Regions from separate parts of the Homo sapiens genome. Here region 2 is linked to region 1. The links come from fine-mapping of genetic effects on gene expression. A gene starts in region 1. The other region holds a variant in brackets. All regions are shown on one strand. Distances are between the middles of the regions. Region 1 holds the start of ABCA5 (ATP binding cassette subfamily A member 5). Region 2 overlaps ABCA5 (ATP binding cassette subfamily A member 5).

The links. PIP is the estimated chance that this variant, and not a neighbour inherited with it, causes the effect.
Region 2: its variant is the best candidate, but not a certain one, in a credible set for the expression of ABCA5 in whole blood (INTERVAL, PIP 0.59).

Annotation. Positions count from the first base shown.
Region 1 is chr17:69,324,702-69,329,104 of GRCh38, forward strand. It overlaps ABCA5 (ATP binding cassette subfamily A member 5), which reads right to left and starts at 2,432. Exons shown (of 39, transcript NM_172232.4): 1 at 2,351-2,432. RefSeq lists silencers at 2,119-2,208, 2,339-2,718 and an enhancer at 2,799-2,938.
Region 2 is chr17:69,250,343-69,254,745 of GRCh38, forward strand. ABCA5 (ATP binding cassette subfamily A member 5) reads right to left here. Exons shown (of 39, transcript NM_172232.4): 32 at 3,973-4,148; 33 at 3,452-3,527; 34 at 3,231-3,325; 35 at 1,405-1,524; 36 at 130-279. Among named protein-coding and RNA genes, the nearest start is that of PRO1804, 18 kb to the left of the region's middle. The variant T/C (reference allele first, on the strand shown) is at 1,914.

The sequences.
Region 1 (4,403 bases):
CCAAAATCCACCACAAAGTAATGTTATACATTTCAACAATGTGCCATTTCAGCCTAAACTGAAGACTGATTTCATTACAACTCTGAAACACAAGAAATTAAATGCAATCTGGTATTAGCTACACTTTTAAACTAAGATATTTTTGGAATGAGAAATTAGGAACATATCTGGCACATGAAACAAACTCCTGCCTAGCTACATCATTTGCTTCTCAATCAATGAAATAAAAGCACTACAAAATATGCCTTTTAGCTTAAAAAGGGATAAATTATAAATGCTCTCATCTTCTTTATTGCTTTAAAATTTACTGTAAGGTGGTGCAATAATAAAACAAAATGCAGTCAGGTGCAGTGGCTCACGTGGCAATCCCAGTGGGAGGAAGGCTTGAGCCCAAGAGTTCAAGATCAACCTGGGCAACATAGAGAGACACTGTCTCTACCAAAAAAAAAAAAAAAAAAATAGCCAGGCGTAGGGGCACACAACTGTGGTCCCAGCTACTTGGGAGGCTGAGGTGGGAGGATCACTTGAGCCTGCGAAGTCAAGGCTGCAGTGAGCCAAGATCCTGCCACTGCACTTCATCCTGGGTGACAGAATGAGACCCTGTCTCAAAAAAAAAAAAATGCTAGTTGTCAATATAATTTAACCTAAATTTTATCACAGTGTTTCTTGCTGAGGGAGAAAATAACAATGCAATGGTACACAGAGGACAAGTCATCCAATAAATTTTCTTATGCATAATAGGTCCTTAAAAGCTTGCCCTTAAAACTATTTTTAATCCAACTAATTTACATACTAGAAAAGTTATGACTTAGTACAATATCATAAAATTCTTTTATGCAATCACCCTCTCAACTAAACTCAAGGACAGAGATTATAAATTGTATTCATATCGGTACTCTTGGCACATAGTATGGTATCTGGAATGTAAAAGACATGCAACAAACCAGCCTGGGCAATATAGCAAGACTTCGTCTCTGAAAAACAAATAAAAAATTACCTGGGCGCAGTGACACACGCCTGTAGCCCCAGCTATTCAGCAGGGTCCCTAGAGTCCAGACGTTCAAGGCTGCAGTGAACTTTGATCGCACCACTGCACTCTAGCCCGAGACGCTGTCTCTTTAAAAATAAAAGACATGCAATACACATGGAATGTACTAATAAATTTGCTCTTATAGTGAATGTAAGATTTCCCTACACTAAATCTGTTTGAAAGGAAATATACTCAAACAGCACATATGCAAAGATTAACGCCTCTTTAGTTTGATTTTAACACAAATACCCACAAAGCCCTAACTGCCCTAATAATGTTCCCTACTATGGAGTCTTCCCTAAAACACATACAATATTGCTCTCCCGGCAAACACAAAATATACTAAATAAAGCACCAGAATTAGGGTCTGGCAGCCCGGGTTGGAATCTCAACTCCATCCTTTTACTAGCTGAGACCTTAATAAGTTACTTAACCTCTTTGAGGCCCATTCTCCACACCTGCCCAACTGGAATAACCCCCTCCAATCCTACAGGGTTGCTGTCAGAATGAAAAGAGCTAATACCGAGCCTGGCTTAAAGCTGTAGTCCAGCAAATACTCCTCTTCCCTTAGATTCCTTCAGAACGCCCTTGTAGAAAGTAAACGTGGTTATTATCTTCATTATTTTCGGACTTATTTATTTAAAACGTAAATCGAAGCCTGAGGAGCCCAGGGGAAAACCTCCTTCAGCTTAATAGCTCCAGCCTGCCCAGCTTTCCGATCCAATTAAGTATTTCCATGCCTGGAGCTCCTATTCGTGTTTTAGGATCAGGGAATTTCCCTCCCAAACTGTGTCATGAGATCTGCGCATTTTCTTCTCACTGAAACTCCTTTTAACACGCAAGGTAATGATCCGCGCGTAACCTCGCAGGGAAGAGCAAGCGCTCATTACCCAGCTGTTCAGACGGAAATTTACATCAATATTTGTTTTCCTTCTTTCCCTGAGGTTGCTGAGGGTGGAACGACAGCGTCCAGGCAAAGGCAGTGTCCCGAAGTCCCACGGCCGGACCCGGTCCCAGGGGAGCCTCGCGGAGCCCCCGCCGCAGGGCCCCGACCCCCTCACGTCCGCATCCTGGGCGCTCCCACCGCATCCCCGAGGCTGGCAACCCGCGCTTCCCGGGAGCTGAGGGAGGTCTGTTTCCCTCAGCTCGCCGCCTCTGCCCGCTTCCGAGCCCGCTTCACCCCACACCTCAGACGCCGAACTCCCCTTCTCTCCCCGCCGTCCCTCGCTGGCCAGCCCCTCCTCGTCCCCTCAACTCCCCCAGGGACGGCTGTCCCAGGCTAGCCTCAAGCGCCGCCGCCGCCCGCGACGCCCGCCTCACCTCAGGGCCCGAGCCGCAGAGCTGTCAGGCCTGGACGCGCTCAGTCTGTTGACTCAGTGCGGGTGACCCAGCTGGGATCTGTGCGAGGGCGCGGCCGCGCGCACCCGCGCGCTCCTGGCGCAGGCAGAGCTGGCGGCGCCGAAGTCGCGCCCCGCCTCCTGCAGAGCGCACCTGAGGGCGGGGCTCCTAGAAAGCGCCGCTCCGCGTACGGGCGCGCTTCAGACGCTCGGCCCCGCGCGTCCCGGCGCACGCAGGCAAGCAGCGCGCCCGGAAGAGGAGAGCGGCTGAGGGTGGGGCGAGCGGTGGCGCGCCGCTGCCCAGGGCCCCTGAGCCACTAGAGTCGGGCCTCGTGGCTCTTCCCCAGGGCCTCCCACGCCTGGGTTCTGCGGGGATCTCGCCACGCTCTTTCTGGAGGCACGGGCAAAAACCACGGCCTCGTGTCTCAGTGGTAAACCTGCCGCCTCTTAGCGGGTGACCTTGGCCCACGGCCCTCTCCTCATCTGCCTCGCCCAGTCACGTCTCCTCTTAAGCATCCTTGCCGTCTGTCTCCTGGCATTTGGATGGGCCTCTCTGAACGCGTTTTGAGTCCTCTGCAGCCCCGCTTCCTCCCGCCGCGGCATCTGGAGTGCTGTGGCCCCGTTTCCGTAACTCTTGCCTCCCCTCCCCAGCCTCCTCATTGGCCCTCACACCCCGACCTGGGAGGTCCTCCCACTGAGGGTGCTTGTAGTTCGCGGAGTGTCCTCATCAAAGACTGGGAATGCGGCAGATGCTGAATTTTCCAAACGGCCTGAGACACATGACATCTGTGAGAGACTGGATACTGCACTTACTTTGCTAAAAATATAATCTAGTGTTTTGAGCTTCATTACTCAAAGTGACCTAAATGGGGTCAAAAGTTATTAACACTAACATTACGTATTTTCCTCTCCACATTTCTGTATAGTCACATTCCCTTGCACAAAGACTTTTTTTTTATTCTGTCAATCCTGTGTACATCATGTTTTTTTTTTTTACTTGTCTTTGTGTTATCTGCTTCTCGAATTTAAACCAGGTCTCCCCAACATGCACTCTGCTTTCTAAATTCTTAGGGGAAAAACAAACAAACAAGGAATCAAGTTTTACTTATGGAATATGAATTAAATAGAAAATTCAAAGAGGTTCGTCAGAATCCTTGATGATTAAAACAGCGGTCCCCAACCTTTTGGGCACCAGGGACCAGTTTCATGGAAGACAGTTTTTTCTGGGGGAGGGAGGATGGTTTGGGGATGATTCAAGCACATTATATTTACTGTGCACTTTATTTCTACTGTTACTACACTGTAATATGTAATGAAATAATTATACAACTCACCATAATGTAGAATCAGTGGGAGCCATGAGCTTGTTTTCTTGCAACTAGACAGTCTCATCTGGGGGTGATGGGAGACAGTGACAGATCATCAGGCATTAGATTCTCATAAGGAGCACGCAACCTAAATCCCTCACATGCGCAGTTCACAATAGGGTTCTCGCTCCTATCACAATCTAATGCCACTGCTGATCTGACAGGAAACGGAGTTCAGGCCCTAATGCCAGCCATGGGGGGCCCCTGTAAATACAGATAAAGCTGCACTCACTTGCCCTCCGCTCACCTCCTGCTGTGCTGCTTGGTTCCTCGCAGGCCACAGATCCCGGTAGCAGTCTCTGGCCTGGGGATTGGGGACCCCTGGATTAAAAGATCTAGCAATGGGGATGGGGGAAAGGGAGATAAGTATATTCAAAAAACTACACCAGGAAACTAAAGAAGGCATGTAATGAAAACTATCCCTGATATATTCTGTCTCTTTTGGAAACATCTAGAACATTTTAGTTACAAATTCTCAATGGCCTAGGATTTGGGGCCAAGTAAAGAAATATACATGAAAGATAAACTTGGTTAACATGTTACTGAACCATACTTTCACCCCAACACTTCTCACTAGTAGCCTTAACCTGCCTTAACTTCAGAAGTCTACTCATTTCTACTACTATTCTAGGCATTTATTTCTTACATTTCTTATCCTTGTAATGTTCT
Region 2 (4,403 bases), 74 kb before region 1:
TCACACACAGAGATATATATATATATGGTCTATGAATGAAAAGATGATTTTTCACTTAATCCTTAATATAATAACTTTTTATAACCTTTGCTCTATAAAGAAATATAACCACATTCTTTAAAATTTTACCTTTCCTGACGGCTTGCATTTGGGAAAATATACTGAATTTCTCTTTGAAGGCGGTCTACTTCTAGGTTTTCTATCCAGTCCTTCAATTTAATTTCCAAAAAGTAGCCTTTTCCAAATTTACTCTTTAGATGTTGTACTGTTCCGATACATCTGAAGTAATTTTTTAAAAGAAAGCTCAGATATAAAATGACAGCTTCAAAGAATAATCTCTCACACATATAACTACATTTTAAAAAAATATACCTTTATATTTAGAGAAAAATTACAAAGAAAATACAGCATCCCCATACACTCTTTATCCGGTTTCAGTTTCCCTAATCTTATCATCTTATATTACCATGGTAAATTCCTCACAACTGAGACACCGACATTGGTACATTCCTTGTCACTGAACTCCATACTTTATTTAGATTTCACCAATTTTCTATTAGTGTCCTTTGTTTATTCCAGGTTCTATCCAGGATACCGTAGTGTTCTTGGCTGTCACGTCACCTTAGTCTCTAACTGTGGGTGACAGTTTCTTACTCTTTCTGTCTTTTTCATGATTTTGACAGTTTTGAGAAGTACTGGTCAGGTGTGTGTTAGAAGGTCCCTCAATTTGGGTTAGTCTGATATTTTTCTCATGACTACACTTGGGTTATGGGTTTTGGAGAGAATATTACACAGCTGTAGTACTTTTTCCATCATATCATATCAGTGAATACATGATATCTGCACAACATCGTTTAGTTAAGGTAGTATTTGCCAGCTTTCTCAACTGTAAAGTTACTATTTTTCTCCTTCTGTCGTTCATTTTTTACAAGAAACTGGCTAAGTCCCGTCCAAACTTGGGGGATAGGAGATTAAGCCTCCTCCCTTGAAGTGGGTATTATCTACATATATTATTATTTGGAATTGTTCTGTAAGGAAGATGTACCTCTTCTCTGACACATTTCTTTACTCAATTATTTATTTATGTAAGTAGAAACTCATATGTTTATTTCATATTTGTGTTACATAATTAATCCAATATATAACAATTTTTTGAAATAACAAGTACTATGCCTAAAAATAATATTCCAAGTTATTGAAATATTAAGTGAATTCAAATTCAAAGTAGACAGCCATATTTTTAAAAAACTCAACATACTTCCAAGTCAATCTATCAAAAGCTAACTCAAAAACTAAAATATTTAACATTTAAATTACTAACTATTGCCATGTTTTTGAAATGATGACTTTCAAAATCCAACCCCCAACCTCTTCCCCTGAATGGCACGCTATTTAGACATCAACCTTAACTGCCCAGACACCATGATAGCTACTCGATCACAGACAGCCTCTGCCTCCTCCATATAGTGAGTGGTCAGAATAGCAGCCCGCTTTCTGTTTTTAAATGCAGTTCGAATTGCTCGCCTATAAAACATAAATAAAACAAAAAGAGAGGAACACATCTGTTTGTTAAAAAAAAATGGGTTTTTAAAAATCCAACCGGTTGGTTAATTAAGTTAATTAAAACTTACCAAATATCAATTGCTATGGCTATTACATCCTGCCCAACTATGATTTTTTTTTTTTTGAGACGGAGTCTCGCTCTGTCCCCCAGGCTGGAGAGAAGTGGCCCGATCTCGGCTCACTGCAAGCTCCACCTCCCAGGTTCACACCATTCTCCTACCTCAGCCTCCTGAGTAGCTGGGACTACAGGTGCCTGCCACCACACCCGGCTAATTTTTTTTTGTATTTTTAATAGAGACGGGGTTTCACCGTGTTAGCCAGGATGGTCTCGATCTCCTGACCTCGTGGTC[T/C]GCTGCCTCAGCCTCCCAAAGTGCTGGGATTACAGGCGTGAGCCACTGCGCCAGGCCATGACTTTTATATTCTAATTTATTTTCCCTTCATTTTGAAAGCTTGTCAAATGGAAAAAAAAAATCTATGATTTCAAATGTTAATATGGGCTAAAAGTATGACAACAAATAAATTTTAAAATTGATGCCTTTTCATGTTATAACCAAAACAGGCTTTGAATCATAAGAAAACCGTAACATGCATCCAAACCAAACCTTACATTTTATAGACATGGAAGTTGAGGCTTAAAGAGTTGTTCAAGGCCAGGCACTGTGCCTCACACCTGTAATCCCAGCAGTTTGGGAGGCCGAAGGGGGCGGATCACCTGAGGTCTGGAGTTCGGGACCAGCCTGGCCAACATGGTGAAACCCTGTCTCTACCAAAAATACAAAAAATTAGCCGGGCTTGGTGGCTCTTGCCTGTAGTCCCAGGTACTTGGAAGGCTGAGGCAGGAGAATCGCTTCAGCCTGGGAAGCAGAGGTTGCAGTAAGCCAAGACGGCACCACTGCACTCCAGCTTGGTCAACAGAACAAGACTCTGACTCAAAAAAAAAAAAAAAAAAAGAGTTGTTCAACTAATTAGTACTTTACAGGCACTGCATAATGACATTTCAGTCAATGATGAAACACATTTCCAACAGTGATTCCATAAGATTATAATACTTTTATAATGTATCTTTTCTGTGTTTAGATACATCTAGATACACAAATACCATTGTGTTACAACTGCCTACAGTATTCAGTGCAGTGACATGCTCTACAGATTTATAGCCTAGGAGTAATAGGCTATACCATATAGTCTAGGTGTGTAGTAGGCTATAACCACCCAGAGATTTATATAAGTACACTCTATTATGTTTGCACAACGACAACATCACCTTTCTCAGAATGTATCTCTGTCATTAGGCAATGCATGACTGTCCTAGAAAGAGTCTCAACATAAATTTAAGACACTATTATTATGGAAAAGATCATTTGTATGCTAAATGACTAGAAAAAAACTTAAAAACTATTCAGAACACTAGAACTCTTTATCTTAATAATGACTCATGCTTATTTCTGTTTCGGAATATGTAAAATATTATGAACACTTCATGAAAAATATGCAAAGTTTTAAAAGCTTAAGGAAATCTCTAAATCTATTTAATTTTTAATTACTAGTGTATCGTTTGAATAGGATTTAAAATCAAGATGTACATATAACTAACATTAAACTATTATAATAAAAGAAACTGTTCTATTCTAAAGTATCATGTACTGTGTCACAAGTACCATACTCACCACATGTGCTGTTTGGCTTTGGGATCCATACCTGTAGATGGTTCATCTAGCAAAGTAATCTGAGGATTCCCTAGCATACTTAGAGCAAAACACAACTACATGGAAAGAAAAAGATGGGTGGGAAATTAACAAAGGTTCACTATAAGGAATCTATCAAGACAATATCAGGTACTAAACTATCAATAAAAATACAGGCATTATTTGGTGTTTAATGAAAGTACCTTTCGTTTGATTCCTGCAGGTAGTTTCTTTACAGTCTTCTGAAGATGTTCTTTTAAATCAAGTGCATGTGTTATTCTGCAAAATGAACAATACAAAATGAGAATACCATGATATATATAAACACAAATACCAACTGGGTGTGATCCCTGATGTTGTTTTCTCTAGAATAGTTACTTAGTCGAAGCTTATTATAAGTAGGTAAGGGCAAAAGTCTCCAATTTACATCATTTTAAATAAATTAATATCTTGATAAAATGGTTCACTTTGAATTAAAATAAGTTTCATGATATCTATAGGTATATTTATCCTGTAACTAGAAATTAAAAAATGACCTTTTTATAACTATCATAATTTACAGCTATCAGTATATTTTCATATATCATAAAGAATATATGAAAAAGTAATAAACATTTTCTATAAAAATCATTGTCCACAGAAATGCTTGTTATGAAATTTTAAAAATATGAAATGCAAACCTTTCCTCTAAGTAACAAAAGGAATCTAAAGACAATTATTTTACCGACTTATGACTTCTTTCATGTCACTTGCACTCATTCCTTTGACAGCTCCATAAATTTCAAAATGTTCCTGCAATGTAGTATCTGGCCACAAAGGGTTTATCTGAGGACAGTAACCCATACACTTCAGTGAATCATCATCTTCACTTGTCTCTGAAGAATAATCTCCTAAAAATACCTATAGAAACACAAACCAATTTTTATTATTTTGCTTAATTTACACTGTGAAGGAAGTGGCAAGTACATTAATTAAAACCCCTTCCTACAGCCAGACTAATATCAAGTCAGATTTGTACTCCTTTATTGTCATTATTATTATTATCACTAAGTAACTGAGACTACAAACATGTGCCACCATGCCTGGCTATTGCTTTTTTCTTTTTTGAATTTTAGGAGGGAAGATGTCTCACTACGTTGCCCAGGCTAGTCTTGA